Regions from separate parts of the Homo sapiens genome. Here all the other regions are linked to region 1. Evidence: fine-mapped expression QTL. A gene starts in region 1. Each other region holds a variant in brackets. All regions are shown on one strand. Distances are between the middles of the regions. Region 1 holds the start of SUMF1 (sulfatase modifying factor 1). Region 2 holds the start of SETMAR (SET and mariner transposase domain methyltransferase). Region 3 overlaps SUMF1 (sulfatase modifying factor 1). Region 4 overlaps SUMF1 (sulfatase modifying factor 1).

Region 1 (8,107 bases):
AACATGGGGCCTGGAACCTGAAAAGTGAGGCAGGGACATCTAGGTGGATGGCCCTGTGAAATGTGGCTCTGCAGACTCCTTTGGGACCCCAGAGGGAGCTCGCAGAGGTAGCCTCCCTACTGAGAACCAGTAGTTTCCACATGTGGAAAATACTGCATATACCAGAACTTTTTTTTTTTCCTGCTTAAAAACAACAGCCTCCCACCCCCAAGAAAGTGCCTCTACATCCTCTTGTGGCTGCCAGGTTATAGCCAGGGTCAAGTTTCAGTATAACCTGGCTGAGGGTAGGCTGGGCCTGATAAAGGACAAAGAGATTTTACTCTGAAGGAGGTGGAAGAATGAACTACGTCATGGAGAAATTGGACGGCTCATACATTGTTAGTGGGAATGTAAAATGGTACAGCCACTTTGGAAAAGTCTGGCAATTCCTCAGAAGGTTAAACAAGACCAGGAGTGGTGGCTCACACCTATAATCCCAGCACTTTGGGAGGCCAAGTCAGGAGGATCACTTGAGGCCAGGAGTTCGGGACCAGCCTGGGCAACATAGTGAGACTTCATCTTTACAAAAAAATAATAAAATGACCTGGACGTGGTAGCAGCTTGTGATCCTGCAGGCTGAGGTAGGAGGATTTCTCAAGCCCAGGAGGTTGAGGCTGCAGTGAGCTGTGATCATGCCACTGCACTCCAGCAATCCAGCCTGGGTAGCAGGGCAAGATCCTGTTTTTTTTTTTTTTTTAAACCCAAACCCAAAAGGTTAGAATTTCCATATGACCCAGCAATCCCACTTCTAGTATATATGAAGACAAATGAAAACATGTGCAAACAAAAACTTGTACATGGATGTTCATATCAACATTATTCATCAAACCCAAAAAGTGGAGCCAAGTGTCCTGCACGTGTGAAGTAGATAACATTTTGACTTGTGCCTTTCCTACTCCAAGAGCCTCAGGCAGCATCACTGTCTGAGGGCTTTCAGAATGCCTTATGCATAGGCATATATTCCTACACCACATGACATCTGACCGGGGACCCACTTCACAGTGAAGGAGGTGCAGGGGTAGGCCATGATCACAGAATCCAGTGGTTTTATCCCTTACAATACGAACCCAAAGCAGCTGGCCTCATAAAGGGTGAAAATGGCTTACTGAAAGCACAGCTGAAACGCCAGCTTGGATGCAATTTCCTGCAAAGATGGGGCCATCTATAAGGATGCAGTATACGCCCTCAATTAGAGATGTCAGACTTGTTCCCACGTAGGAAGAATATATAGGTTCCACCAAGAGGTGGAAGTAGAAGTAGCCCCACTTACTATTACTCCTACTGACTTACTGGGATTTTGTTCTCCCATCCCTGCAACTCTGAGCTCTGCAGAGCTGCAGGTCCTGATCCACAAAGGGATGCTGTCTTTCTGTGGACACAACCAGGGTCCCATTGAACTACAAGCCATGGCTACCATCAGGGCACTTTGCATTCCCTGTGTTCAGGAACCAGAAAGCAAGAGAAGCCTCTAACCTGGAGGGAAAATTGATGCTGCTCAGCAGGAAGAGTGTCAGATGTCTTCTCAAAACTGCAGTGGCACCAACTTTCACAGTAAAAGCTTACCAGAACATCCATGACTTGGCCCAATGTTACCTTTCTGTTCTCCTTTCATCCATGACTTGGCCCAATGTTACCTTTCTCATCTCCTTTCCTTTCTTCTCTCCCCCTTGCTCACTCCACTGTAGCCATGCTGAACTCTTTGATGTTCAGTGAGCAGACAAGCTGCTTTCAGGACTGGGGTCTTTCATCCTCCCAGCTTCATGAGATAGAAGGAGCAAGAAAGGCTACAAAATGCAGAAGGAGCTCACACGTGAGACGGAGGGTGAGAGATATTTTATATAATTACACTAATTCGTACGAGCTGATGGCTGAGTTGGACTTTTTACCTCTTAATTTTTAGAACAAGCCTCCTCACTGACAGGAGCAAAATATTAGAGTGGAAAATATTGATGAGAAATCTCTCATCGATCTCATACTCATTGATTATTGACTAAAAAGTTAGCCTGAGACAAAAGAATGATCGTCCTGGAGAACCAACAAAGTTCCATCTTTCATAATGATTAGTAATAGCAAAGTTATTTTTGAGATATGTTAAATGTCAGGTACCAGGCTACACCTTTTATATACTTTGTGTTATTTAATCCCCATAAAATCTATAAGAAAAAGGAATTATTATTCCCATTTCACACACGAAGAAATAGAGGCTCAGAAAGCTGAAATAATTTGCCTAGGTCATACTTCATGTAAAGTGGCCAGCTTTAACCACAGCTCTTTGTGAGTCTAAGACCTATATTATTTTCTCCACAATTTGATTCCCCTTAAGAGAAAGAGATAATCGTTACTTCATTTGTTCATTCACTTATCCATAATTTAATAAATGTTCACTGAGTGATCATGTGCAGGCTTGGCCTGATTTTGCTGATACAGTGGCAAACGAATAGGCTCCTGCCTTACCTTCATGGAGGTTATAGCCTAATGGTATAGCTGGACCAGGAATCAAAGAAGTTCAGGTCTCTGAAGCGCAGCTGACACAGCATGTGCTGAGACTGATATTTGAAGGAGGCGAACAAAGATTACCGTTGACCTAGACCTTGACTATATATTATGCACAGTAAATACATACAACCTTGGTTAAGGCATTGACCTTTTAGCTTCATCAATTTTGAAATGAGTATAGTAATAATACATTTCTTGCCAAGTGGTTGTAATCTCAAATGAGAAAATGTGTGAAAGGCCTTGGCAAACTGTAAAATAGTCAACAAGGAGAAAAGGCCTTTTTTTTTTTTTTGAGAGATGGTCTCACTTTGTCACCCAGGCTGGAGTGCAGTGGCACAATCATGGCTCACTGCAGCCTCTGCCTACCAGGCTCAAGTGATCCTCCTGCCTCAGCCTCCGAAGTAGCCAGGACCACCGGTGTGCGTCACCATGGCCAGTTAATTTTCTTAATTTTTTGTAGAGACAAGGTCTTGCTGTGTTGCCCAGGCTGGTCTCAAGCTCCTGGCCTCTAGCGATTCTCCTGCCTCGGCCTCCTAAAGTGCTGGGATTACAGGCTTGAGACACGGTGCCTGGCTGGTCTTTTCTTTATGCTAAAAAAATTCAAACAGATGCTACATTAGAATAGTGCAATAAACACCCAGATGCCCATCAACCAGCTATGACAGTTATCAACTCATGGCCAATCATGCTTCATCTTTAGCCAGACCCTGATTACCCATTTTTTGGGAAGCAAATCTTTGACTGCCTATATTTTTATCCATATATATATATGTGTGTGTGTGTGTGTGTGTGTGTGTATACCTCAGTGAGTGTGTGTGTACCTCAGTGAGGGGATTCTTTTAAAAAATATAGCCACAAATACCATTATTACTCCTAAAAGCCTAAAAACAAAATTTACAGCAATTCCTTAATTTTATCAAATATTATAATTTGACTTAGTGGTTAAATTTCCCTGATTATCTCAAAAATTTTGAACTCAGTAGGTTTGAATTAGTATTTAGATAAGGTTCACATATTGCAGCTGGCTGCTATGTTTTTTTTTTTTTTTTTTTTTTCAGATGGAGTCTTGCTCTGTCCCCAGGCTGGAGTGCGGTGGCGCCATCTCGGCTCACTGCAAGCTCCACCTCCCGGATTCATGCCATTCTCCTGCCTCAGCCTCCCGAGTAGCTGGGACTACAGGCGCGTGCCACCACGCCGGGCTAATTTTTTGTATTTTTTAGTAGAGATGGGGTTTCACCGTGTTAGCCAGGATGGTCTCGATCTCCTGACCTCGTGATCCACCCGCCTCGGCCTCCCAAAGTGCTGGGATTACAGGCTTGAGCCACCGCGCCCGGCCTGCTATGTTGTTTTTTAATCTGTAAGTTTCTCCTTCATCTTCTTTTTGTTTTGGTTTTGCATTTTGTTCGATTACGGAACTGTAGAACAGTGGTTCTTAAACTTAAGTGTGGATTAGAATCATCTGGAGAGCTTGTGAAACCCTGGATTGCTGTGTCCAGTCCCCACGGATTCTGATTCCGTATTGTATTTCTCTTTTTTTTTTGAGACGGAGTCTTGCTCTGTCGCCGAGGCTGGAGTGCAGTGGCGGGATCTGGGCTCACTGAAACCTCCGCCTCCCAGGTTCAAACGATTCTCCTGCCTTGGCCTCCCGACTAGCTGGGACTACAAGCGCGCCATTACTGGGTCTTTGTGAGGATTAAATGAGATTTTAAAAAGTGAAGTGCTTAGCATAGTACTCTGGCACTTACCAAATGCCCAGCAAATTTGACTGTTATTTTTCAACCAAGAAATCATAAAGGGGTGCACGGTCTGTGGAAGGCCTTGAGTTTTGTGGAGTTTTGTGTTTTGCTGCGTTTTGACGTTAGCACAGGCAAGCAGCAGCGCCAAAGAAGTACCTGAAGAAAGGTGAAGAGCAACTCTCCTGGTCACTTCGTAAGTCAGCTCAAAATTCTGCCCCTTTAAGGAGGGCTCAGCCACGTGACCAACCGGGTCACATGGCCCGCGGGACAACATGGCTGCGCCCGCACTAGGGCTGGTGTGTGGACGTTGCCCTGAGCTGGGTCTCGTCCTCTTGCTGCTGCTGCTCTCGCTGCTGTGTGGAGCGGCAGGGAGCCAGGAGGCCGGGACCGGTGCGGGCGCGGGGTCCCTTGCGGGTTCTTGCGGCTGCGGCACGCCCCAGCGGCCTGGCGCCCATGGCAGTTCGGCAGCCGCTCACCGATACTCGCGGGAGGCTAACGCTCCGGGCCCCGTACCCGGAGAGCGGCAACTCGCGCACTCAAAGGTGCTCCATCGATTCCTCCGAGGCGGGTGGGGGCTGCTCGGTTCCTGGACGGGGTTGGAGTAGGCAAAGCAAGGCACTAGTAGGAAGGGAAGTAAAGGTTATAACCACACCCCAAATCGAGCACCTGCTGTTCCCGTATGAGGAGTTCCTTCTCCGTGCCTCACCGGAAGACTCCATTTAATTGACCATTAGGGAGTTTGGTTTGAGGGTTATTGTTACTTCTTTACCCCCTATTTCTTTCTCCCTCCAACCTGTTCTCTTAATGAGGATCTCATAATTTTAAGGCAATCAAATTATGGTTTAAATCACCATTTCCTCTCTTATTAACGGAATAAATTAGGATCCTGGGTCTCAGTATCTTCACCAGGGTTGTTGTATACTTATCTGTAGTCTCCTCGAGTACACTCTGCTTGAGGACAAGGGCTTGAATTGTTTATCCTGCTATTCTTAGCACTTTAGCACTTAGGAAGGGCTAAGCAAACTGTAGTTGTTTTATTGCTATTATTTATCTGTCTTGCTTAGCGCCTGTATGTGTTAGGTGCCGGGATATATAAATAACTTACTGGCCGGGCGCGGTGGCTCACATGCCTGTAATCCCAGCACTTTGGGAGGCCGAAGCGCGCGGATCACGAGGTCAGGAGTTCGAGACCAGCCTGGCCAACATGGCGAAACCCCGTCTCTACTAAAAATACAAAAATTAGCCGGGCGTGGTGGCGGGCGCCTGTAATCCCAGCTACTCGGGAGGCTGAGGCAGGAGAATTGCTGGAACCCGGGAGGCGGAGGTTGCAGTGAGCCGAGATCTTGCCACTGCACTCCAGCCTGGGCGACAGGGCGAGACTCCGTCTCGAAAAAAAAAAAGAAAGAAAGAAATAACTGTTACTTCAATCTGTCTGCCCGGTATTTTGCATATTGATGTGTTGTCGAAACAACTTATGGGTCTAAAGGTCAGGTCTTCTGACTCCTAAACTAGTGCTCCTTCTTGTTTACTTAGCAGACACTATCCTTTTCCCATTCCATTTTTCTTTCCTTTGGGTTAATCCTGACCAATATTTAGGACTTAGGTGAGAGGTAACATCCACAGTAGGTTTTACCTGATCTCCTCTTTCTCTCCCCTTCAATATTTCCGTATCCTGCCTCAGTAGTTATGTGTTTATTCTGACATAACAATTATTAAAGATGTTTTTCTGCTGATGTCTCTCCCCAACTGGACTGTGAGGGTGATGGGGTCAGGACCATGATTTAGTCTCTCAGGTGTAGAGTGTAGGAGGTTGATACCTGGGCTTCTCATTGTTTTTCCATCCTGTATAATTTTTGGCCTTTACTTTTTTTCCTGTTACCCTTAGAGCATGTCCTGCAGTACTGTTTATCTTTTGTGTGTTGAAGACTCCTGATTACTGTTTTAGTGTGTATTGGCCATACTTGATATTAATTCCTCTCTAACTTGCCTGGTAATTGATAATCAATCTCTCTTTCTTTTTTCTTTTCTTTTTTTTTTTTTTAGACGGAGTCTCGCTCTGTCACCAGGCTGGAGTGCAGTGGCGCGATCTCCGCTCACTGCAATCTCCACCTCCTGGGTTCGAATGATTCTCCTTCCTGCCTCAGCCTCCCAAGTAGCTGGGATTACAGGCACACGCCACCATACCCAGCTAATTTTTGTATTTTTAATAGAGATGGGGTTTCACCATGTTGGCCCGGATGGTCTCAATCTCCTGACCTTGTGATCCGCTTGCCTTGGCCTCCCAGCGTGCTGGGATTACAAACGTGAGCCACCGCGCCAAGCCAGTCTGTCCCTCTTTCTAAGGAGAAATCCTTACATCTGTTTATCTATTTTTTAATAGGGCAGCCATCTCATTTGCATATATACATTGGTCTGTCTCAAAATTTTATCTAGATTCCTCTGGCAAGCATTGAACATTTTTCATTTTTAAACATTCTATTTTCCTCTGGGTTCCAGAATGGGATGTGGATGTTAGAATCTTTTGGATTACATTTACAAGATGTACATTTTTCATCCCTATAGAGTGGTTTTGTGTCTTGACTGGATGCTATATGGGCCATCTTTGGCCAGTTCTTATAGTCTGCTTTCTACAATGCTTAGGGGCATCTCAATTTATTAACAAATTAGTGGTTGATGAGAATATACCTTCAAGCCTTCAAGGGCTGAACTTAATGACTGAAACTGAAGCAGTCTTGTTATCAAGACAATGACGTCATAGGAGGCTGTTCTTAATCTCTCTATTTTCCTTGGTTTCAAATGTTTTAGTTCATGTGCAGATGACTTTGGTCTAATTCTGACACTTTACCATTTATTCTAAATTCAGGAACTCCAATATTTCAGGAGAAGTAAATGAGCATAGTGGTGTTTCTGCCTTTTTTCCCCTCTTTGTTTTCTGTTTATTTGGTTTAATTAAACAAATGTTTATTTGGCACATTACTATATAACACTTGTTATGTAAGATTCATCCTATGTGCTGGGCATACAGAAAAAGACCCATACACTACCCACATGGCATTTACACTCTGGTAGGTGTTTCTCTCTCTCTCACACACACACACACACACAAACACACACAGACACACACATAAGTATCATTTTTCTATAGTGAGAATACTATAGGAGGGATATGTCCAGAGTACCTGGAGAGGAAGAAAGAATTAATTCTTCATGGACAAGTCGAGTAGTGCCTCAAAAAAAAAAAGGCCACATTTGAGCTAGGCCTTGGAGGAAATATTTTTCGGAGCTGGGAATGGAATTCCAGATTCAAGGACATTCCAAGAAGGAGAATAGTATCAACACATGGCACATTGTGGAAATGCGTGGTGTGTGCTGGGAAACATAAGTGATTTAAGATCTGGGAGTGACATGTTCACACTTTTTAATGTAACACTTTTTAGATGAGTCTTTTTTTGTTTTTGTGTATTCATACAATGAGTGTGTGTGGCAAGGTGAGGGGCACAGAGAAATAACACTGGGCTTTGCCCTCAAGAAATTTTCAGTTTCACTAGAAAGTTATGGCGATTAGAATTGTCTGGGAAACAATATAGATGTTTAAAAATTTAATGTGTATTCCCTCTGGTTATAAAAATATGATTCTCATTGAGAAAATTATCCTAATAGTTTTCTGCGTGGGTTATGATTTTGTAACAAGGAAGCAAAATGTTTTAGTCTGCTTTTATCTTTTAGAAGAGTTATTTGAAAGGCATTTAGGATCATGGGATGCTAAGATTGTAGGTGGCATGTCTGTACATATGGATAAAGTCAGTCTTGATTTCCTGTCTGAGGAGGTTTCTGAC
Region 2 (8,107 bases), 160 kb after region 1:
AAACATGACAGAACTGGCTTAAAAAGCTTACTCTAGGGATTAGCATGTACGTGTTCAATAAAAATTTTGCAGGTAGTGCATAGTAGGGTAGTGAAGAAAATAAGTTCTGGAGTTAAACTTTCCAGGTTCAAACATATTCAAACCAAAATTGTGTCTAGGAAGCCATCGGACTGTATACCTTTCCTCCATTACTTCTCCATTTGAGTGGAGAAAAGCTAAGAGCTGATCCAGACTAGACTTCTTTCAGTTATCAAGTATTACCTTACTGTCTGCAATATGCACATACTGGGATTTAGAAACAGTCAGAAAAGTATAAAGGACACGGAGAATGGGATTTTTTTTTTTTAAGACGTTGCTGCCCAGTCTGGAGTGCAATGGCATGATCATAGCTCACTGCAGGCTCCAACTGCTGGGCTCAAGGTCAGCCTCCCAAGTAGGTGGGACTACAGGCATGCACCACCATGTCTGGTTAATTTAAAATAAAATGTTTTTGTAGAGATGGGGTCTCACTTTGTTGCCCTTTGTTAAGGGTGGTCTTAAACTCCTGACTTCAAGTGATTCTCCCGCCTTGGCCTCCAAAAGGGTTGGGATTATGGGAGTGAGCCACCATGCCTGGCTGGGATTTTTTAAATTTCCTGCATTGTTACAATGTAAGTTTTACTTTTTCTTCGTATGTATCAAAGCACAGAATTACTCATGCAAGAGCTAGGAATAAATGCAAAACAATCACGGCAAAATGATATACTGGAAATCAGATCCTTGAAGCACTGGGTGAAGATTTCAAGTTTTTTGACAGAAAACTTAAGAGAAAATACACTCTTGTCTTGGCTATTCCTGTCTGCAACAATTTCTTTCTTCTCTGAACTAGACTTACATTTACTGTTAATAGCATGAACTTCAGGGTCTAAATGACACAGATTGTAGGGCTCTCTAATTGTGTTAAATGTGTAGGTCTTACCTTTCTAACAGATACGTGTCTCAGGGAAAAGCATGGTTATGAGGTTTCGAGTGTGGCATGGTGATGGGGGTGGGGTTCCTATCCATAGGACAAGGCACACAGCAGGTGCTCAAGAAGCATTTTTCGATTGCCAGATTGCAGCTCTTGATACTTGTTAACGAGAAGTTTGACTTTTCTGAATCACATTCCGTACTGAAGACCCAGAAACTGAAGTATGATACTGTAACATTCTAGGCTTAAAACCTGGGCCTCTGAATTATAAAGAAGTGTTGTGAAAATCTTCATTCCTTTTTTGGTTGTGTTGAAACCCCAGCTACAAGAATCTTTGTACTTGGCCTCTAGCCTCATAAGTTTGTTTTTCCTCCAAGCAGCTATTAGAAGACTGTGAGCCAGATAATTCTTGTCAAGGCCTGTTGAGATCTAAAAATAATGTTTGAAGCTGGTTTCAGAGACCTGAAAAATGGTTAGATCCAACTGTTAGCTCAATAAAATCAATTAGTTTATTTTCTACTTGGCTTTCAACACTGATGACATTATGATATGCTTGTTTCCAATATGAACATTTGAATTTCTTTTTGCCTTTTCACACAGTAGCCAAAGGCAAAACAGACACAAAGTTATTTTTATCTTGAAAGTTTTTCATGCCTTAATTCTTATGTGTGCATATGCCTGTGAAGGCAGGGTTTGGAGCAAGCAAGCTGTTTTGACCTTTTATAAGACTGGTTTTGTGTTCCATGAATACATGGAAGAAAACGAGTTGAATGCACTTTTAGGCTTGTCACTTAAATGTTTCAAGCATGTTTGATCTTCTTGGTAAGAAAGACAATAAGCTCTCTTAGGAAGGCATCCTGTCTTATTTTTGTAACTCTAACTTTATTGGGAGCTGTGCATATACAGAGATAGTTAGAACACTGTGGGACTGGGTTTTAATCTCCCAATTTTCATTTATGCCCACCAACTGTAGATGTAACAATCAATCACAAAGCTTCCTCTTGTCACTCCTTTCTCCCCTTTTAAAAATAGACGTATTTATTTTAATATACACTTTGAGAAATAGAAAACCTCATGATTTTATGGACATTAATGATTACAATGATTCTAAGGGAGATACTTATATAATTTATTTTTAAATAATTTAACGCTTAAAGTGAGTTAATTAAAAAAATACGTCGGGCACATAGTTTTACAGATTGTTCTTGGATATGGCAAAGAAAAATATGACTCAAGATTGGAAACAGATTTATAGAATAGTCTCAAACGCACACACACACGCACGGCAGGAATATTGAAGCTAATCGTGACAGTTGTAAACACCTTGAGGGTAGAGTGCGTTTTTCTGTTTGTTGTATTCTTTGCAGCCCAACCCACCACCTTGCATATATTTAGCTCTCAATAAATATTTGTTGAATTAAGAATGGACTAGAACAGTGGTTTTTTAAATCAGTGTTTTTGACCAGGAACTCAGCAATGCTTAGTCCTAAGTTTTCAGGGACCACTGTTTAATATTGGGCCAGCTAACTGTATTATTAACTATAAATTGCCAAAGGTAGTCTGGGGAACAATAATAATTTCTGACATTAATATCTTATTCTACTCTTTGAGGACTAAACTCTGATTTTTTCTTATCTTGCCCAAATTCCTACCCAAGGCACCTGGGGAGTCATGCCTTACAAACCATAAAGTCTCATCAGAGGAGTTTTAATTTTAACCCTATATAGCATGGTCTGCTTTCTACCTGACTCTGGCATAACATCAAATAACAAATAAGGGAAGAAATCAAAATATTTTAACCCCAAATATATTTCCTTGCCATATCTTGAAATTGCCCTGGAGGGTTGTCTCTTGTGGGAAAAATCCACATTCTATAGAGAATCCCCTTTCCCCCTCTTTTTCTTTCTTTCCACAACAAGGAGATAATCAACTAAGACCGAGGCACCTTTTTAAGTTAGATAAGAAACATTTTACAACCTGCTCCCTCTGAAGTCAGCTGGGAGTCTCCTCCCCACAATTAAAACTTGGGTCTCTACATGGCCGGGTGCGGTGGCTCACGTCTGTAATCCCAGCACTTTGGGAGGCCCAGGTGGGTGGATCACTTGAGGTCAGGAGTTTGAGACCAGCCTGGGCAACATGGTAAAACCCTGTCTCTACTAAAAATACAAAAATCAGCTGGGCGTGGTTGTAGGCGCCTGTAATTCCAGCTACTCGGGAAGCTGAGGTGGAAGAATCGCTTGAACCTGGGAGGCGGAGGTTGCAGTGAGCTGATCGCACCACCACACTCTAGCCTGGGTGATGGAGTCAAGCTCCGTCTCAAAAAAAAACCCTTTATCTTAACCTAAACATTTCTATTGATCCCAGGTCTTCAGACAAACTCAACCAATTGTTAACCAGAAAAATTGTTAACCAGAAAAATTAAAATCTACCTATAGTCTGGAAGCCCCCCCCACCACTTTGAGTTGCCCCGCCTTCTGAACCAAACCCATGTACATGTTAAATGTATTTGATTGACGTCTCCTCTCTCCCAAACATGTATAAAACCAGGCTGTGCCCTAACCACCTGGGACACATGTTCTCAGCATCTCCTGAGGGCTGTGTCACAGGCCATGGTCACTCATATTTGGCTCAGAATAAATCTCTTCAAATATTTTAGAGTTTGATTCTTTTCCTTGACATCTTTGAAAGCTGCTATTGAATCTCTTATCTTATCTGATCCTCACAAAAACCCCTAGGAAAAAGAAAGGGCAGATAGGGTTCATTGTTGATAATGGATGTTAAAGGGGCTATGCATTTTTAAATTATTATTTTCATTTTGCAGATGAAGAAACTCAGGCTCTGGGAAG[T/A]AGCTAAGATGTCTAAGCTCCGAACCATACTCTCCAACTTCCACGTCCAGCGCTCTTTCCACTTCAAAATCTTTGGTCATTCCTTATTCCTTGGGTAACGCTCAGGCCAAGGTCGGAGGGATAAGAAAGTCAGTAGAGGCTGGGAGCGTGGCTCATGCCTGTAATCCCAGCATTTTGGGAGGCCGAGGCGGGCGGATCACCTGAGGTTGGGAGTTCGAGACCAGCCTGACCAACATGGAGAAACCCTGTCTCTACTAAAAATACAAAAATTAGCCGGGCGTGGTGGCCCATGCCTGTAATCCCAGCTACTCGGGAGGCTGAGGCAGGAGAATCGCTTGAACCCGGGAGGTGGAGGTTGCGGTGGGCCGAGATCGCGCCAGTGCACTCCAGCCTGGGCGACAGAGCGAGACTCAGTCTCAAAAAGAAAAAGGAGAGTAGAAAGGGCTTTGAGGTAGTTAATAGAAGCAAACATTTACTGAGTTCTTACAGCAAACCGGAAAGTGTATTTTCCTTGCCATTTTCAAAGCACTCCGGAAGAGAGGTACTGTTCCACTGTACGCTGGAAGACTCTAAGGCTGAGCCACAGCTAATTTACACTCGCCCAAGAGCCCACAGCGTGAGGGAGACCACAGCTAAGGCTGACTCGAGGGGCTGTTTTTATGCACGACACCGGCTGCGATCCATTAATAGGCCCCACGGCTTATCCTACCTGTGAGAGACACCTGAGACCAGGGAGGTAAATGACTCCCCCCGTGATGCCTCCTTGAGTTCTGAGGACAGGACTGGACAAAAAGCCAGGTTCTCACAAGGCCTCCGGTTCTGCGCTTCAGGGAATGGACTGAAAAGGACAACACCCTTGCTAAGGTGATGCCGTGGGTCAACAGAAAAAGGCCCAGGCCGGGGCATGCACACCTATTCCCGCGCACCAACGGGTGCGCTGTAAGAGAAGACAAAAGGTCGCGACTGGGAGGCCGTCCCAGCGAGGCGGCTTGAGGAGACCACGTGGGGGAGCCGCGCGCCCGCCTCCCGCGCCGCCTGGCCCCGCCCCTACCTGGAAGGGCGCCGGCGCGGCCCCCGGGGGCCACGCGCCCACCGGCAAGTTTTCCTGGCCGCACGCGACATCCAGCTGCTCAGTCGGGGCCTCAGGCTTCTCCTTAAACTCCGCCATCCCACAAGGCCGTGTCGTCTTTGCCGCTTCCGCGAACATTTACCCGCCTCACGCAACGCCCACTACCCTGACAGTCCTGGGCCGCGCGGTGGATGCTGGGACTTGTGGTCCCGTGGCCCCACCGCCTCATGGGAATTGTAGTTCGTTTCTTCTCAGGAGTGGCCTGGAAGGCGCTTCCCTTCCTTGACTTTTTGGGTCTGGCTCCCGTTTTGATTTCAGCCAGAGGCACCACAGATAATTACAAAACCATGTAAGGTACGGACGAAACAAAGTGAGGTGCTTTAGTTTTTCCTGGGAGCATCAGAGAGGGGGCTTTCGAGGTGAGGTCATTTGTCCAGGTTTTTGAGGGCTCACTGCACGTTTGTGGAGTGGAGGCAGGGGTGCGTTCTAAACCGAGCGGGGAAACGCACACCAAGGTTTCTAAAGGTCTGCGGCTTGCCGGGAAGTTGACTGACATGTGATAGGGTTTGTGCCAAGGCGATAGCCTCACAGGGTGCCTTAAGGAATTTGTGTGGGGGCATGCTCACTCCCTGATGGAGGTATCCGTGCCCCTTTGCCTGTCCTTTTCCCTCCTCTCCATCCCTCTACCCTCACCCCTCCAAACCCCTGCCCTGCCAAAGGATTCTGATAGCCTCAAGACTGCTGAATCCGGTGGAGCATTTTCAACCTCACTGAAGCTCTCTGACATGATTGTCCTGCTTCTCCTTGAAACTGTAAACCAAAAATAAAATTCCAATCCTCCAAACCATCTGAAGGGACCCCTCCTCTCTGCCAAGGTTAACCTGAGAAAGTGGTTCAGGCCATGATGGGAAGGGGGGTCCAACATGCCTCATTATGCCCTTCTTCCTTTTGGAATTCAGGAAAAGCCAGCCAGCATCAACATCAACACACACCTTAAGTCTGATAAGAAACATTTACAATCTGTTCTCTGAAATTTACCTCTTGGAGGCTTCATCTCCACGATCAAATTTGGTATCCACAACCTCTTATTGCAACCCAGACATTCGTTTCTATTGATTTTAGGTCTTTAGATAATAACCAGTTGCCAATCAGAAAATCTTTAAATCTACCTATGACCTGGAAGCCACCCCTCACCCGCTTCTCGTTGTCTGCCTTTCCAGATCCAACCAATCTTACATGTATTGATTGATGTATTATGTCTCCCTAAAATGTGTGAGAGTAAGCTGTATCCCAACCACCTTGGGCACATGTCATCAGGACTGCCTGAGGCTATGTTGGGGGCGCATTCTTAAGCTTGGGAAAATAAACTTTCTAAATTGAGACCTGTCTCAGATAATTTTGGGTTCACAAACCCTTCTGACCTTGCAGCTTCTGAGGTCCCATTGGCCTAAATGTGTTTCCATCTTGCAGACCTTTCCTTGTTAGTATCCTCTTGTTGTTTTCCTGCCTGACTGTTTCTGAAAAGTGGGTGTGATTCAGGGTTCTGCCCTTGACCTTTTTCTTTGCTCCCCTTCCCTGAACTTTCTCATTAATAACATCCACTCCCATGGCTTCAAATATAAAGGATTAGGTCACCAGTCTCCAACCCAGATCAGACGTTTCTCCTCAAATCCAGTTACGCATATTCAGCTAATGATTGAGCATTTCTGTTTTCTGTCCTACAGGCTCCTCAAACTCAAAATAATCTGAATTGACTTCTTCTGCCAGTCTTGCTTTTTCTTCTTTAAAGTTAACTGGGAAAATAATTTGTGATCTACAGAGCCACTAAAGCAACAAACCAGTTACTCTGTATTCCTTCACTTCACTAGACTCATATAGCTAAGGACGTGGTGGGTAAGTCTTGTTGATTCTGCCTTCATGTTCTCATTTTTGCCTCTTCTCACTTAGTCCTAGGCTCTCTCATTTCTTGCTTGGACTTTGGAAGTTCTTTGCTTTAAGTCTGTCATTCTCCATATCCCCAAATCACCCTTACTGCCGCTGCTACAATGACCTTTGAAGATCCTTGTCCAGTTATTATATTTTGCTGCTTAGATTCTTATTTGCTCCATTTTCTCTCAAAGTTTACCTTCTATATTCTGTCTTATGAGCCTTTGAGGACCCAGACTTTACCTATTTCCTTGGTCTCTTTTGCTGCTGTTCTCTGTTGGAACCCCTTGTTCTGTTGACATTCCCTCAAAAAGCCATTCTACTTGGGCCTCTGGGCCTTTGTCCACATTGTTCTTGTATCTCCAGTGCCTTTACCCAGGACTGTCTGTCTGCTCAGCTCAAGTAGTCCCTTCTCTGTATCTTTCTTTACCCTGTTTCCCTTAGCATTGGTTACCCTCTTTACATTAGTTCTCCTACTTTATAAGCCATTTCTTATGTTCCCTGCAACTATTTAATGTAAGCACAGGCAAAACCATCTTATTGAACTCATAAAAATTATATATATATATATTGGTGGAGGGTGGGGAGATAGATAGATAGAGAAACATTTTGTTTTAACTTAAATGATTTTGGTACATTTATATGCTAGTCTTTTGATGTAGGGCCAAAAGAGAAGGAGAGCTAGAGTGTGTGTGTGTGTGTGTCTCTGTATGTTTGTTTTCTACTGATTAGAGCTCCAGGTCAAGCTTACTCTGAGTTCCAGTTTTGGTGTCTTTAAAGTGGGGTGGGAACTAAAGGATAGTGAAGCAATGGGATATCATGATCTGTTTTCTTTCCCTAGTCTTTTATACTTTTCTCACTCACACCCACTTCAAGGGCAAAACATTTTTTAGTGACTTGCTTTTTTTTCTCCAAGTCTTTACAGAATGTTCTACTTAGTTATCCCAGAAGGGAGAAACTCTTTGCACTCATAGTTCATCATCCTTTTTTCATAAAATTATAATAACAGTTATACCTGGCATTAATAGGTTTGAGAACAGAAATTAAAGATCAGCCTTATAAATGTGCTATTCATGAGCATGTATAAAATCACATAATTTTGCACTGCAGTACACATCTGATATAAAAACTTTTTTGAGTACACATCTGATATAAAAACTTTCTTGTGTTGCTGTAAAGAAATACTTGAGGCTAGGTAATTTATAAAGAAAAGAGGTTTAATTGGCTCATGGCTCTGCAGGCTGTACAGGTAGTATGGTGCTGGCATTTGTTCGGTTCCTGGGCAGGCCTCAGGAAGCTTTGAGTCATAGTAGAAGG
Region 3 (8,107 bases), 110 kb after region 1:
AGAAAAAAGAATAAAAAGAAATGAACAAAGCCTCCAAGAAATATGGGACTATGTGAAAAGACCAAATCTACGTCTGATGGGTGTACCTGAAAGTGACGGGGAGAATGGAACCAAGTTGGAAACACTCTGCAGGTTATTATCCAGGAGAACTTCCCCAATCTAACAAGGCAGGCCAACATTCAGATTCAGGAAATACAGAGAACACCACAAAGATACTCCTCGAGAAGAGCAACTCCAAGACACATAATTATCAGATTCACCAAAGTTGAAATGAAGGAAAAAATGCTAAGGGCAGCCAGAGAGAAAGGTCGGGTTACCCACGAAGGGAAGCCCATCAGACTAACAGCGGATCTCTCGGCAGAAACTCTACAAGCCAGAAGAGAGTGGGGGCCAATATTCAACATTCTTAAAGAAAAGAATTTTCAACCCAGAATTTCATATCCAGCCAAACTAAGCTTCATAAGTGAAGGAGAAATAAGATACTTTACAGACAAGCAAATGCTGAGAGATTTTGTTGCTACCAGGCCTGCCCTAAAAGAGCTCCTGAAGGAAACACTAAATATGGAAAGGAACAACCGGTACCAGCCACTGCAAAATCATGCCAAATTGTAAAGACCATCGAGACTAGGAAGAAACTGCATCAACTAACGAGCAAAATCACCAGCTAACATCATAATGACAGGATCAAATTCACACATAACAATATTAACTTTAAATGTAAATGGACTAAATGCTCCAATTAAAAGACACAGACTGGCAAATTGGATAAAGAGTCAAGACCCATCAGTGTGCTGTATTCAGGAAACCCATCTCACGTGCAGAGACACACATAGGCTCAAAATAAAAGGATGGAGGAAGATCTACCAAGCAAACGGAAAACAAAAAAAGGCAGGGGTTGCAATCCTAGTCTCTGATAAAACAGACTTTAAACCAACAAAGATCAAAAGAGACAAAGAAGGCCATTACATAATGATAAAGGGATCAATTCAACAACAAGAGCTAACTATCCTAAATATATATGCACCCAATACAGAAGCACCCAGATTCATAAAGCAAATCCTGAGTGACCTACAAAGAGACTTAGACTCCCACACAATAATAATGGGAGACTTTAACACCCCACTGTCAACATTAGACAGATCAACGAGACAGAAAGTTAACAAGGATATCCAGGAATTGAACTCAGCTCTGCACCAAGCAGACCTAATAGACATCTACAGAACTCTCCACCCCAAATCAACAGAATATACATTTTTTTCAGCACCACACCACACCTATTCCAAAATTGACCACATAGTTGGAAGTAAAGCTCTCCTCAGCAAATGTAAAAGAACAGAAATTATAACAAACTGTCTCTCAGACCACAGTGCAATCAAACTAGAACTCAGGATTAAGAAACTCACTCAAAACCGCTCAACTACATGGAAACTGAACAAAAATGACTACTGGGTACATAATGAAATGAAGGCAGAAATAAAGATGTTCTTTGAAACCAACAAGAACAAAGACACAACATACCAGAATCTCTGGGACACATTCAAAGCAGTGTGTAGAGGGAAATTTATAGCACTAAATGCCCACAAGAGAAAGCAGGAAAGATCCAAAATTGATACCCTAACATCACAATTAAAAGAACCAGAAAAGCAAGAGCAAACACATTCAAAAGCTAGCAGAAGGCAAGAAATAACTAAAATCAGAGCAGAACTGAAGGAAATAGAGACACAAAAAACCCTTCAAAAAATTAATGAATCCAGGAGCTGGTTTTTTGAAAGGATCAACAAAATTGATAGACCGCTAGCAAGACTAATAAAGAAGAAAAGAGAGAAGAATCAAATAGACCCAATAAAAAATGATAAAGGGGATATCACCACCGATCCCACAGAAATACAAACTACCATCAGAGAATACTACAAACACCTCTACACAAATAAACTAGAAAATCTAGAAGAAATGGATAAATTCCTCGACACATACACTCTCCCAAGACTAAACCAGGAAGAAGTTGAATCTCTGAATAGACCAATAACAGGCTCTGAAATTGTGGCAATAATCAATAGCTTACCAACCAAAAAGAGTCCAGGACCAGATGGATTCACAGCCGAATTCTACCACAGGTACAAGGAGGAACTGGTACCATTCCTTCTGAAACTATTCCAATCAATAGAAAAAGAGGGAATCCTCCCTAACTCATTTGATGAGGCCAGCATCATCCTGATACCAAAGCCGGGCAGAGACTCAACCAAGAAAGAGAATTTTAGACCAATATCCTTGATGAACATTGATGCAAAAATCCTCAATAAAATACTGGCAAACCGAATCCAGCAGCACATCAAAAAGCTTATCCACCATGATCAAGTGGGCTTCATCCCTGGGATGCAAGTCTGGTTCAATATACGCAAATGAATAAATGTAATCCAGCATATAAACAGAACCAAAGACAAAAACCACATGATTATCTCAATAGATGCAGAAAAGGCCTTTGACACAATTCAACAACCCTTCATGCTAAAAACTCTCAATAAATTAGGTATTGATGGGATGTATCTCAAAATAATAAGAGCTATCTATGACAGACCCACAGCCAATATCACACTGAATGGGCAAAAACTGGAAGCATTCCCTTTGAAAACTGGCACAAGACAGGGATGCCCTCTCTCACCACTCCTATTCAACATAGTGTTGGAAGTTCTGGCCAGGGCGATTAGGCAGGAGAAGGAAATAAAGGGTATTCAATTAGGAAAAGAGGAAGTCAAATTGTCCCTGTTTGCAGATGACATGATTGTATATCTAGAAAACCCCATTGTGTCAGCCCAAAGTCTCCTTAAGCTGATAAGCAACTTCAGCAACGTCTCAGGATACGAAATCAATGTACAAAAATCACAAGCAATCTTATACACCAATAACAGACAAACAGAGAGCCAAATCATGAGTGAACTCCCATTCACAATTACTTCAAAGAGAATAAAATACCTAGGAATCCACCTTACAAGGGACGTGAAGGACCTCTTCAAGGAGAACTACAAACCACTGCTCAATGAAATAAAAGAGGATACAAAGAAATGGAAGAGCAATGTATTTTTAAAAAGCAATGTTGTCCCACAGCCTTTCCTATGTTTGATGTTCCTAGACTTGTTGTTTAATTTTTTGCCGATCTACTGGCATTAAATGATATCATAAATATGATTTAGATAATAAATAATATCATAAATATTATTTAGGTATTAAATGGTGTCTTAGTGTTGTTCTTAGTATTTTTTCAGTGGCCATCTATCACTTATTACTTGGTTTAATTTCAAAAATTAATATATATTCTTATTGTATTGGAATACTGAATAGGTTTCATATAGGAAACATGAAACTCAGATTGCTTGAGGGATAACTACTGTGCACATTGTGGTGCATTCGGAATCTTCCAGTCTTTTCTTCTTGGCACATGTAGTTATCTACACTGTGGTCATACCACATATACACCTTTATATTCTGCCTTTTTCATTTTAACTGTTTTTTTTTCTTTTTTTGGACACAAGATCTTGCTCTGTCACCCAGGCTTTAGTACAGTGGCTCAGTGATGGTGTACTGCAGCCTCAAACACCCAGGCTCAAGAGATCTTCCCACTTCAACCTCTAGAGTAGCTGTGACTACAAGTGCACACCACCATGCTCAGCTAATTTTTTGTAGAGATGGGATCTTGCTGTGTTGCCCAGGCTGGCCTCGAGCTCCTGGCCTCAAACAGTTCTCCCATTTCAGCCTCCCAAAATGTTGGGATTACAGGTGTGAGCCAGTGCGCCTGGCCTCATTTAACATTTTATCATGAAAACTTCCTGTGTCATTAAATACTATGTAAAGACATGACTTTCAATGGCTGCTTACTTTTCTATTATATGGATGTGCCTAAACTTAGGCAATCATTGGTTGTTACATTTTTCTTTTTTGCTGTTATATCTAATGCTGAACATCTTTGTACTATATCCGTGTTACATTTATAAGGTGAAGGACGTTGGAAAATATGTGGTTAGTTCTTGAATGTGCTGCCCTTTTTAAAGCATACATGTTAAGTATCCATACAGGCAGGGTTGTGGGGAAGCACTGTCTACAGCCGGTGCAATATGCATCTGATGGGTTAGAGCCTTCAGCTGAGAGTCCCAGTAGCACTTACCTTGCTCTTTCTCTCTACACAGTCTTATTGTTACAGGTATCGCTGTGCTGCTCGGAGCCAGAACACACCTGATAGCTCTGCTTCGAATCTGGGATTCCGCTGTGCAGCCGACCGCCTGCCCACTATGGACTGACAACCAAGGAAAGTCTTCCCCAGTCCAAGGAGCAGTCGTGTCTGACCTACATTGGGCTTTTCTCAGAACTTTGAACGATCCCATGCAAAGAATTCCCACCCTGAGGTGGGTTACATACCTGCCCAATGGCCAAAGGAACCGCCTTGTGAGACCAAATTGCTGACCTGGGTCAGTGCATGTGCTTTATGGTGTGGTGCATCTTTGGAGATCATCACCATATTTTACTTTTGAGAGTCTTTAAAGAGGAAGGGGAGTGGAGGGAACCCTGAGCTAGGCTTCAGGAGGCCCGCGTCCTACGCAGGCTCTGCCACAGGGGTTAGACCCCAGGTCCGACGCTTGACCTTCCTGGGCCTCAAGTGCCCTCCCCTATCAAATGAAGGGATGGACAGCATGACCTCTGGGTGTCTCTCCAACTCACCAGTTCTAAAAAGGGTATCAGATTCTATTGTGACTTCATAGTGAGAATTTATTATAGATTATTTTTTAGCTATTTTTTCCATGTGTGAACCTTGAGTGA[T/C]ACTAATCATGTAAAGTAAGAGTTCTCTTATGTATTATTTTCGGAAGAGGGGTGTGGTGACTCCTTTATATTCGTACTGCACTTTGTTTTTCCAAGGAAATCAGTGTCTTTTACGTTGTTATGATGAATCCCACATGGGGCCGGTGATGGTATGCTGAAGTTCAGCCGTTGAACACATAGGAATGTCTGTGGGGTGACTCTACTGTGCTTTATCTTTTAACATTAAGTGCCTTTGGTTCAGAGGGGCAGTCATAAGCTCTGTTTCCCCCTCTCCCCAAAGCCTTCAGCGAACGTGAAATGTGCGCTAAACGGGGAAACCTGTTTAATTCTAGATATAGGGAAAAAGGAACGAGGACCTTGAATGAGCTATATTCAGGGTATCCGGTATTTTGTAATAGGGAATAGGAAACCTTGTTGGCTGTGGAATATCCGATGCTTTGAATCATGCACTGTGTTGAATAAACGTATCTGCTAAATCAGGCTTCACCGTCATCAGCTTCTTTTCTCTTTCTCTTCTTTATGTTTTCTTTTAAAGAGAGGACTTTGTGATATGCGTGTTTTATTTGCTAGAAAACGTTCATGTTTGTTAGCTAATGGATAACTTTGATATGTGGGTAATTTGTGGGAATTTTTGTTCCAAAAAGCAAGGCTATTCCACCAGTAACCCTATCATGACCTTGCTGCTTGTTGCCACAGTAGATAATGCCAAGTCAAAGGCACTGCCTCACTTGTGGTCTTGTAAAACCCAGCATTTGCTTCCCATGCCGGGAAAGCACCTTGTTTTAGAACAATAGCTTTCAACCTAAGGTCCCTGTTATCAAGTTCCCATCCTGATTCCTCAGTCCTGAGAACCCCTAAGCCATTTCTTGCATGCCATTTGAAAGAAATGTTTAAATCAAATAATATTCAAAAGTGTCTAACCAACACTTGAATGCTACTTTTGTGCTTAGCCTCTTAACATGTTAAAACAATTCCCTTGAAAAGCAGTCATGTAGGCCAGGCCCAGTGGCTCACACCTGTAACCCCAGCACTTTGGGAGGCCAAGGTGGGTAGATCACTCAAGGTCAGGAGTTCGAGATTAGCTTGGCCAACATGCCAAAACCCTATTTCTACTAAAAATACAAAAAATAAAATTTAGCCAGGAGTGGTGACACTTGCCTGTAGTCCCAGCTACTCAGGACTGAGCCAGGAGAATTGCTTGAACCTGGAAGGCGGAGGTTGCAGTGAGCCGAGATCGCGCCATTGCATTCCAGCCTGGATAAGAGAACAAGACTTTGTCTCAGGAAAAAAAGAAAAAAAAAAAAAAGTCATGTAGCTGGCACGTTTAGCCACATTTGTGGTTCATTTTGTAGATATCAAATGTTTCTCTACAAACTTCCACCTACTGATGATTAATCCCAGGCAAAAAAAAAAAAAAAAAAGAACAAACATTGGTAGCAAATAATTAATGTAGGAAATAAGAGATTTTATTTTTAAAGTCACCCTACTCCAGTACAGTTTGTTTTTACTTGTTACCTCCCGCCTGCATATATTTTTTACATTGTTATATTTATGGTGTGTCTATTTTGAATTCTTGTCTTGTTAATGTTACATTGCGTAAGTATTTTTGGTGTTTTGGGTGTACTTTTTAGAATTGCATTTCTAGCAGCAGCATAATACTGGAAGGCATTTAAAATGAATTCCTAAGTTGGGGACGGTGGCTCATACCTATAATCCCAGCACTTTGGGAAGTCGAGGCGAGAGGATCGTTTGAGGCCAGGAACTTGAGACCAGCCTGGGCAACTGAGATGGTTTGACTGCGTCCCCACCCAAATCTCATCTTGAATTGTAGTTCCCATAATCCCCAGGTGTTGTGTGAGGGACCTGGTGGGAGTAATTGAATCATGGGGGCAGTAACCCCCATGCTCTTCTTGTGATAGTGAGTGAGTTCTCACTAGTTCTGATGGTTTTACAAGGGGCTTTTCCCCCATTGCTCAGCACTCACTGTCTCTCCTGCCACCCTGTGAAGAGGTGCCTTCCACCATGATTGTAAGTTTCCCCAGCCATGTGGAACTGTGAGTCAATTAAACCTCTTTTCTTTATAAATTACCCAGTCTGGGGTATTCCTTCATAGCAGTGTGAACACGGAGTTATAACAGCAACAAAGCGAGACCCCATCTTTACAAAAAATGAAAAATCAAAATTAGTTGGGCATGGCAGTGTGTACCTGTAGTCCCAGCTACTTGAGAGGCTGAGGTGGGAGGTTCGCTTGTGCCCAAGAGCTCAAGGCTGCAGTGAACTATGATTGTGCCACTGTACTCCAGCCTGGGCAACAGAGCAAGACCCTGTCTCTAAAAATGAATACAATAAAATGACATCCTAACAAGCCGTTTATTTAAGAACTACATGTCTGGGTTACCAACTAAAGAGTACCCTAAACTATGGATAGCTATAGTCACTACACTTTATAATGTTGGATAGTGACATACGAGCAGACCAGCAAAATGGGACTAAGAAAAGTTCGGTTTGAATGCCATAGGTGTAGTCCTGAAAAGCCTCACTTTCTGTGACATTGTACACAAAACATAGAGGCATACGGGGAAAATTGGGGTAGAGGCAGATTACTCAAAACTTAAGGAACTTTGTACATTGTACCACAGCACTAACAAAATAACTATCCTAACAAAACCAGTAGCCTAATTCAATCTCCACTGGCATTTGCAGCCAGCATTACAGCCAGTTGATCCTTTGCAGCCTTAAGTTTTGAGGCACCTTCTTTCTTCTCCAAGGTGTAAGACCTTCAGGACATATGCTTCTAATGGAGATCACGTCCATCAAAAGTAAAAAATCTGATCTGGGATGTAGATTTCTCCATCAGTCGACTTTAAGGTGGGCAGTGTCTTTGCAGCATCTTTATCTGCACTGTCAGTTTTTCAGAGCTTAACACACTGGAAAGTGTAGCAGTTCTTGAAGCCACTAAATAAATCACTAGATGCACTAAAAGAAGGCACTTTCATGGTATTAAATTTTTTTTTCCTGAAGGTCTTCATATATTGCTAAGGTTTTCTTTAAAATTATGAGAAGGTTTGTGCCTGCTTGTTTCAAAACATGTTTTAAACCACATGTGATCCAACATGACTTCCACATTCTACTGTCCTCCATTCTCTGTTTATTAATCACTTGTGAGCTATTTCTGCTTTAGATAAACAGTTGGAGCCGAGCAGACCGTTTGGTCGATGTGCCAGTTGCAGTATTAAAAAACTGTTTTGTTTTTTGTTGTTGTTGTTTTAGGAACTCTTACATCTAGAGTTGGTTTCGAATT
Region 4 (8,107 bases), 22 kb after region 1:
AATCTCACACGTACAGAATACTATTTCCCAGAGTCATTTGTGATACTTGGGGAAATGTATTTCCTTCAAGAACAGTCACGTTCTCAAAAGCTAATCTTGTTCAGTCTGCATTCTTATCAGCTAAGTGAGTCTTAAACGAAAATGGTCTCTGTAAGTGACATTAATTTAAGAGGAAGCCAGAGACTTTTAGGTCATTTCTGAGTCCTCTGGGAAGTCATAAGAAAGACTCAAGTTCAATTGGACAAGAGGAATCACTTTAATAGTGTGGAGAGAAAAGGGCACACATGCAACACATTACTACAACCTTTTCTGGATTTTTATTTCCTACCTTCCTTATAGGCTGAGAAGTTTGGCGACTCCTTTGTCTTTGAAGGCATGTTGAGTGAGCAAGTGAAGACCAATATTCAACAGGCAGTAAGTAATGTTTCAACAGGCTCCTGTATTTCTCTAAGGCTCATTGAAAAGGGTTTGGGTGAAAAATCCAAACCACATGTGTCACCTTCCTCTCCCTGTAACACCTAACCATTCTCCTGCTGAGGATTGACCCCAAATAATAGGCCCATGGACCAGGACACCTTATCTTAAGGAAAATGGGACAAGATGGTATCTGAGGAAGTGATGGGTCTGCCTTGAGTTTCTGTCTTGTGTGCCAAGGAACACACAGTGTTGCTAGGTAGAGCTCAGTAGGCTCCAGACACTTCCGAGTTTCATTTACTTATAGCCATTTCTAGAATGGAGGGCTCAATGAGAACATTTTAAAATTCTATTCTAAAAGTCTCCATCTCCTCAGGTGCTGGTGTGGAGATAGAGCTTCCTTAAACATTTTTGAATTCATGGGATCAGAGTAGCACTCAAGAAAGGAGCCCTTTGTTCTGAATGTTCATGAAAAATGGAGGTGGTGAACTGGTTCTTTACATGCAGGGGTGTACCCTCCCATATGGAGGATCCAGGGAATGCAGATGAGGTGTGTTTTTCTCAGACATGGAAACAAACGGTGGAGTAGATTTTCACAAGCAGCTTTGTGATGAGTGGAACTTGGGATTCTTGTTCCAGACATTTTAGCAGGTTTGTGTATGTTGGAGTATTTGCTTGCTTACATGTCTCTTGAAAATATAAGAACAAGGGAAGGAGTGAGGGTAAGCTGGGAAGTTGAGGGTTCACAAAACAAAGAGGGTAGAGAATGCAGAAGGGATAGGAGATGGTGAGAGAGGGAAGGAAACGGGGGTCTGCCCACTCCAGGGAGGCTGATGAAGCTAGAGGCATTGAAGACGAAGGAATCCAGCCCTCATCTTCCTTTTTAATGCAAGTTACCTTTTAGCTCCTGTCTGCGCTTCATCTCTGTGGGTGGGCCTCACTCTGTCCTCTCGTGAGCAGCAGTGCAGTGCAAGAAAAACGAAACTGTCCTGGCTTATGTTTGCTTTCTCTTTAATATAGAAAAATGTGGGGGAAACGGTGAGGTAAAACAAGACTTGCTTTCAGATCATATATAGGTGAATTGAGCCACTTTTTAATATGTGTTTTAGATAAATGTTTGAAAAATGTGATTGAGCTCCATTCGAATTTCACAGCTTTCTTTGCTCCTTACAAGTTTATAAGTCTAATATGTAATCTGATATTCCCCTCCGCCCTACTTTTTTTTTTAAAGGGCTTTGAGGTCAGTTGAGGCTGGTGTTGATTAGCCAGCAGCTTGGGACATGTGCCTTATTTTAAGATACTGAGTTCAGGTGAGGGTGGGCGTTTGCGCTTATTTTTGTAATTTGCCTTTTCAGATACAGGGCCTCTTGTCACTTGAGAACCTCCAAACACATTAGGTATGAAGACAGAGGTGGGTCATTGCTAGGCTGTGAAGGTGCCTGTTGAGTACATAGTAAAGTGTGTGTGCTTGTGACTAGGATGAGGACAGGCAGCTCTCACTGGGTTGTAGTGTTGGTCACTTGCTTAACTGCTGATAATGGAAAAGCAAACCTTTTAAGCTTATTTAGAAAGGGCTGAACAAGTAACATAAATGTGTCAATGATCAGGGAGAGCTAAGTTTTTGTTTTTTCATCCTCCTCATAAGGTCTGACTTACCTTCATTCACTGCACCAGACCTTTTTTTTTTTGTAACCCAGTGTCTCCAGAAGAGTAAGATGTGAGTTGGCCTACGAGGTAAATTTGAGCAGTAGGGGAGATGATTTTGGGTGGTAGATTGGCAAGCCTCCAATCTCACTGAATCACATAGTGAGAAAGCACTTTCCTTTTAGGTGTCTTTCAAGACTTGATTAAGTTAGAAAGAAAGACCTGAATCTTGCAAGTTTGAGTGCTAGCATATCCTTAGTACTTGACTACACTTTTACTCTCCTTTTAACATAGAAGAGGCCTTGGAAGTGTCCTCAGGCTACCACAGCTAGTTAATAATATGGTTTATTTTCATGTAATTATTTTAAGTGTTGCATTCTATTTATGACAGGTTATAAAAGCGAGATAAATTCTCCTTTTTTTTTAAAAAAATCTTTTTTTGGTAAAATAAGACAAATACAGAAAATCACACAACACAAATGTACAGCTTACTGAGTTATCCTAAGGTGAACGTACCTGTAAGCATTACCCAGGTCCAGAATTAGAATTTTTCTGCCTACCCCAGCAGCCCCATCCAGGTGCCACATCCTAATCATCACCCCTCTCTGTCCCTAAAGTAGCCAGTACCCTGCTTCTCAAAGTAGACACTTCTTTGCATTTCTTTATAATATTATTACCCAGGTGTACATGCAAAGTTTAATCTTGCTAATTTAAAGGAAATTTGTGTCTTTTAAGACTCTTCTACAGGTTTCCCTTTCATTGTGTTGCTTCCCCTTACCCCCTAGTTTTTCCTACAATGATTTATCTATTGAAGAATCTAGGACATTTAGCCTGGAGACTTTCCTGCAGTCTGGATTTTGCTGAATGCCCTGTCATGGTGCAGTTCATCTGTTCTCTCTGTCCTCTGTATTTCCTGCAAGTTGGTAGCTGGATCCCCAGGTGTGATCAGACTCAGGTTTGAACCCTACAGTAAGACATCAGATAATTGGTGGGTTCTTTCCCCATGAGGCACCTGATGTCTGGTGCTTCTTCTTTTTATAATGTTAGCGGCTGTTGATGCTTAGTACCTAATCCATTAATCCATTGGGGGCTATCATAAGATGGTGTATTAGTCTCTTCTCGTGCTGCTAATAAAGACATGCCCAAGATTGGGTAATTTATAAAGAAAAAGAGGTTTAATGGACTCACAGTTCCACATGACTGGAGAGGCCTCATAATCATGGCTGAAGGTGAAGGAGGAACAAATGCACGTTTTACGTGGTGGCAGGGAAGAGAGTTTGTGCAGGGGAGCTGCCCTTTATAAAACCATCAGATCTCGTGAGACTTATTTACTATCATGGCAACAGCACAGGAAAACCTGCTCCCATGATTCAGTTACCTCCCACTGAGTCCCTCCCATGACAGGTGGGATTATTGGAGCTATAATTCAAGATGAGATTTGGATGGGGACTCAGCCAAACCATATTAGATGGTGATAATCTAATCTTTTTCATTTATTAATGGAGATACTTTCATAAAGAGATAGTTCCATCATCTACTATTTCTTAACCATTGTTGCAGGTCATACAGGACAGATAGGATAAATGCTTGATTCTTTACTAGCTTTTAAGATAATGAATTGGTTCCCTACTGTTCTTCAAAGGTGACCAATTAGAGTATTTTTTGATTAAATATTTCATCTTAAGATAATTATATGTTCTCATGCAGTGTAAGAAATAATACAGAGAGATCTGGTGTACCTTTCACCCAGTTTCCTCCAATGGTACCATCTTATATAACTATAGTACGGTTTCACAGCTGGAAAATTGAGCATTCATATGACCCACTTGTTTTTGTCTGATTTCACCAGTTTTATATTATTCATTTGTGTGTCTGTGTATATATTTAGTTCTGTACAATTTTGCCACAAATGTAGATTTGTGTAATCACTGGATTTAAAAAAGTCTTCATGAACTC[A/G]TGGATTTAAATATATTTTATGGCCAGGCATGGTGGCTCATGCCCACAATCCCAGCACTTTGGGAAGCCGAAGCAGGATGTTCACCTGAGGCCAGGAGTTCAAGACCAGCCTGGGCAAGAGAGAGAGAGAGAGACCCCATCTCTACAAAAAATACAAAAAATTAGCCAGGTATGGTAGCATGTGTTCATAGTCCTAGCTACTTAGGAGACTGAGGTGGGAGGATCACTTGAGCCCAGGAGTTCGAGGTTTCAGTGAGCTGTGATGGCACCATTGTACTCCAGGCTGGGTGACAGAGTGAGACCCTGTCTCTGGGGAGAAAACAAAACAAAACAAAAACAAGCCATATTTTATTTTACACTGAAACCATGATCCCTTTTGAAGGTTTGGGCATATCTTTTTTTCCAACAGCTTTATTGAGATGTAATTTACATACCATAGGTTTTACCATACTAAGTGTATAATTCCATATTTTTTATATAGTCCAGTTTCACAACTAGAAAGCTGACCATTGATACAACTCACTTATTTTGGGGTTGTATCAAAAATTTATCTATATCATTACAATCTAATTTTAGAACATATCTATCAGCCCTAAAAGAAACCACATGCCCATTTGTGGTCATTACCGATTCCCATCCCCAGCTTTAAGCAACTGTCCTGAGTCCTAGCAGTGCTTCAGTCCTAGTAGTCCTTCATGGCTTCATGGCTTCATAGCTTTGCTTTTTGTGAGGCCAAGATCTGCTCCCTCCCCTACCCCTCATCCTTAAAGCCATTTCTTTAAGAAGCTCTAGTATCTTGTAGTAGAAAACAGTATTTCGAGGACCCTGTCTAGGCCCTGGGTATGCTCATTGCTATTAGGTTGGTCATTGTTTCTAGGCCTCTGCAGTGGACAGACTGAGATAAAATGCCAAAATGAGTATACACTGATACTTCCATTTTGTGATTTTTAGTTTAACCTGTTCTGTATTACATCTATCTCCTTTCTTCCACAGCAGGAATACTGGTTTTCAAGGACACAGGGGATGATAGACTAGTCTATAATCACGCATTTATTTTATCCCAGGTTACATACACAGTGGTCTCAATAATACTAATGCTACCATCCCCAGTGTAATTACTGAGAATAGGTTTTTAAAACTCCCAAACATTTATATATGCTTTTCCTGTTTCTCCCCTAGTTTTAAAATACTGTACTATTTCTGTATTATTGAAACATATGTCCATTATAGAGAGTACTCTTTCCATTTTAGCTCTCAACTAATCTCAGTTCTACAAGTGACTATACATGTTTAATACTCTCTGTGATCATGTCTCTCTAGTCATTTGAATTGATCAAGCTCATTCTCAACTAGATTCTTCAGGAAGTGGCCATGGGAACAATATGCCCTGAGTTTTTGCCCGTTGATAACAGTTTGTTAGTGCTCTTTATACTTTAAAGTCAACTTTTCTGGATATGAAATCTTTGGTTCACATTTATTTTTCTTGAGTAGCTCACATACTTTATTTTTTTTCTTTTGGAATAAAGCATTGCTATTGAAAAGCCTGATGGTAATCTGATTTTTTTCCCTTGAAAATTAGTTGTTTTTGCCTGAATACCCAACGATTTTCCTTTTTCTTGTTCTTTAGTATCCAGTGATTTCACTAGACTGTGTGTTGGTGTTTGTCATTGGGTCAGTATTCTCAGGTATGGGGTAGAAGCTTTCAATATCTAGTTTCACAATTTTTTTTTAAACTTCAGGAAATTTTTCTGTTATACTTTTTACTATTTTGTGTGTCCTTTTGTTTTATTCTTTAGGAACTTCTTATATCTTTCTTTACATAATTCTTTTTACCCATTTTCAGTGTTTATCACTTTCTTTTTAATCATTTTTTTCTCTCTCTTTTTTCTTTTTCTTTTTTTGAGAAGGGGTCTTGCTGTGTCACACTGGCTGGAGTGCAGTGGCACGATCTTGGCTCACTGCAGCCTTGACTTCCTGGGCTGAAGTGATGCTCCCACCTCAGCCACCCAAGTAGTGGGGACAACAGGCACATGCCACCACACCTGGCTAATTGTTTTGATTTTTAGTAGAGATGATGTCTCACTATTTTGCCCAGGCTGGTCTCAAACTCCTGGGCTCAAGCAATCCTTCCACCTCAGCCTCCCAAAGTGCTGATATTACGTGCATCAGCCACCATGCCTGGCCTCTTCTTTTTATTTTAATTTTTTCTTCTCTTTTGTCTTCTGTGTCTTTTAATTATCTGTTTATTTCTGAAATGACTTTTTATTTTATTTCTAGTTGCTACTTGACTTCTCTACCTCATCTGAGTTTGTGGATTCTGATTTATTTTGTTCTCTCTTGCATCATTTTCTTCATGCCATTTACCTCATTTTTTAAATTTTTATTTTTTGAGACAGAGTCTGGCTCTGTCACCAAGGCTAGAGTGCGGTGTGCAATCTTGGCTCACTGTACCCTCCACCTACTGGGCTCAAGCAATTCTCCTGCCCCATCCTCCTGAGTAGCTGGGATTACAGGGGCCCGCCACCACGCCCGGCTAATGTTTTGTATTTTTTAACAGAGACAGGGTTTTGTCATGTTGCTCAGACTGGTCTCGATCTCCTGAGTTCAGGTGATCCATCTGCCTTGGCCTCCCAAAGTGCTAGGATTACAGACATGAGCCACCATGCCCGGCCTACCTCATTTTAAAACACCATGTTGTGATTTTTTTTTTTTTTTGAGCATTTCTTCCTGACTGCATTTGTTATTCATAAGGATGTTGTTCTGCTGCTTCTTCTCTTACTTCTTATAGAAATTTGGATTGCATTTGAGCTTGAGTCTTTTCTGTTGCTCATTTGCATTTGAACTCAGTTTTTCTGAACTTTTAGAAAGAGACATGGTTCAGGGTAGCTTTGTAACTTCACTGAACTCCCTCTTAGTTGTTCTCAACATAGTGTTTAAACGATGGCCTCCTGTCTTCTGAGATGTCCTGGATTTCTTCCCCTCCTCCACTACTTCTCTTTCCTTTTTCTCTCTCTTTTTTTTTTTTTTCCTTTTTCTCTCTTGTCCCTCTATTTCAGGAGTTTGGTTTTGTCTCTTGAGATTTCTCCTTGGTGTGAGGCTCTATTCTGGAAGGGAACCCTGGCAGGTCAGTTTCAAGAGTTCATGGTGGGGAGGCCGAGGCGGGCGGATCACGAGGTCAGGAGATCGAGACCATCCCGGCTAAAACGGTGAAACCCCGTCTCTACTAAAAATACAAAAAAAAAATTAGCCGGGCGTGGTGTTGGGCGCCTGTAGTCCCAGCTACTCGGGAGGCTGAGGCAGGAGAATGGCGTGAACCCGGGAGGCGGAGCTTGCAGTGAGCCGAGATCGCGCCACCGCACTCCAGCCTGGGCGACAGAGCGAGACTCCGTCTCAAAAAAAAAAAAAAAAGAGTTCATGGTGCACAACTGTTTGAGTGCCTTCACACGTTCTTACCATGGGCCCCTTAAACCTACTCCTTATTGGAGTGGGCAAAATTCCTTCCAGTGTGAGCTACTGTTGTCAAACTGTCCCTCCATGCTTTCCAGTAATGCCTGTTGGCTCTTTTGGGATTTTCCTTTTCACAGGTCTGATTTCCTGTTGCTTTCTTTTCTTTCTCCTGCCCAACCACTGCCCAGCCACAGACACCATGCAGGTTGTATGGCCGTTGGCGGTTTTTCTTCACCTGTTTGCGTTCTGGGTTTGGTGAGGATACTTTGTCACATGGATTTGCTGTGCACATTGTTCCTGGGTTTTGGGTATTGCTCTCTAGTTGTTCTGTCTGGTTTTATACGTAGAGAGGCGAGATTCAAAAGCTTTGCTGATGCTGTTGCCATCTCAGCTAGTTTTCTTTTTATGTAGTTTTGAGGTAAAACATTGAGCTAGCTTTCAGAGTTTGTGTGTAAAAATATCTTAAACTGGTGAATTTAATGGTTTAAAACAGAGTATTATTATCGAAGTAATAATCATGAATTAATCATGAATTACTCATGATTATTATTTGGACGTTTAATTTGAGACAAGAATCTTAAAAGGTATAGATATTAAGTCCCAGAAGGGATTAAGGCAAGTTTTGCTATTGTAGCAGTGTTTGTTT

What was found. PIP is the estimated chance that this variant, and not a neighbour inherited with it, causes the effect.
Region 2: its variant is fine-mapped to the expression of SUMF1 in whole blood (TOPMed, PIP above 0.99). The same link has a PIP of 0.9 or more in fetal neocortex.
Region 3: its variant is fine-mapped to the expression of SUMF1 in whole blood (TOPMed, PIP above 0.99).
Region 4: its variant is fine-mapped to the expression of SUMF1 in lung (TOPMed, PIP above 0.99). The same link has a PIP of 0.9 or more in aorta, esophagus muscle, fibroblasts, gastroesophageal junction, pituitary and tibial artery.

The regions. Positions count from the first base shown.
Region 1 is chr3:4,463,682-4,471,788 of GRCh38, reverse strand. It overlaps SUMF1 (sulfatase modifying factor 1), which reads left to right and starts at 4,520. Exons shown (of 9, transcript NM_182760.4): 1 at 4,520-4,813. The coding sequence starts at 4,544. It overlaps LOC124909340 (a long non-coding RNA gene), which reads right to left and starts at 4,965. Exons shown (of 2, transcript XR_007095789.1): 1 at 4,281-4,965; 2 at 2,390-3,125. RefSeq lists an enhancer at 4,294-4,473 and a silencer at 4,644-4,823.
Region 2 is chr3:4,300,266-4,308,372 of GRCh38, reverse strand. SETMAR (SET and mariner transposase domain methyltransferase) reads right to left here and starts at 5,004. Exons shown (of 3, transcript NM_006515.4): 1 at 4,847-5,004. The coding sequence starts at 5,002. It also overlaps a transcript of SUMF1 not described here. RefSeq lists enhancers at 4,567-4,636, 4,665-5,407 and a silencer at 4,727-5,066. The variant T/A (reference allele first, on the strand shown) is at 3,796.
Region 3 is chr3:4,358,326-4,366,432 of GRCh38, reverse strand. It overlaps SUMF1 (sulfatase modifying factor 1), which reads left to right. Exons shown (of 9, transcript NM_182760.4): 9 at 4,179-5,287. The coding sequence ends at 4,289. Among named protein-coding and RNA genes, the nearest start is that of SETMAR, 59 kb to the right of the region's middle. The variant T/C (reference allele first, on the strand shown) is at 4,807.
Region 4 is chr3:4,441,573-4,449,679 of GRCh38, reverse strand. SUMF1 (sulfatase modifying factor 1) reads left to right here. Exons shown (of 9, transcript NM_182760.4): 3 at 340-414. Among named protein-coding and RNA genes, the nearest start is that of SUMF1, 22 kb to the left of the region's middle. The variant A/G (reference allele first, on the strand shown) is at 4,015.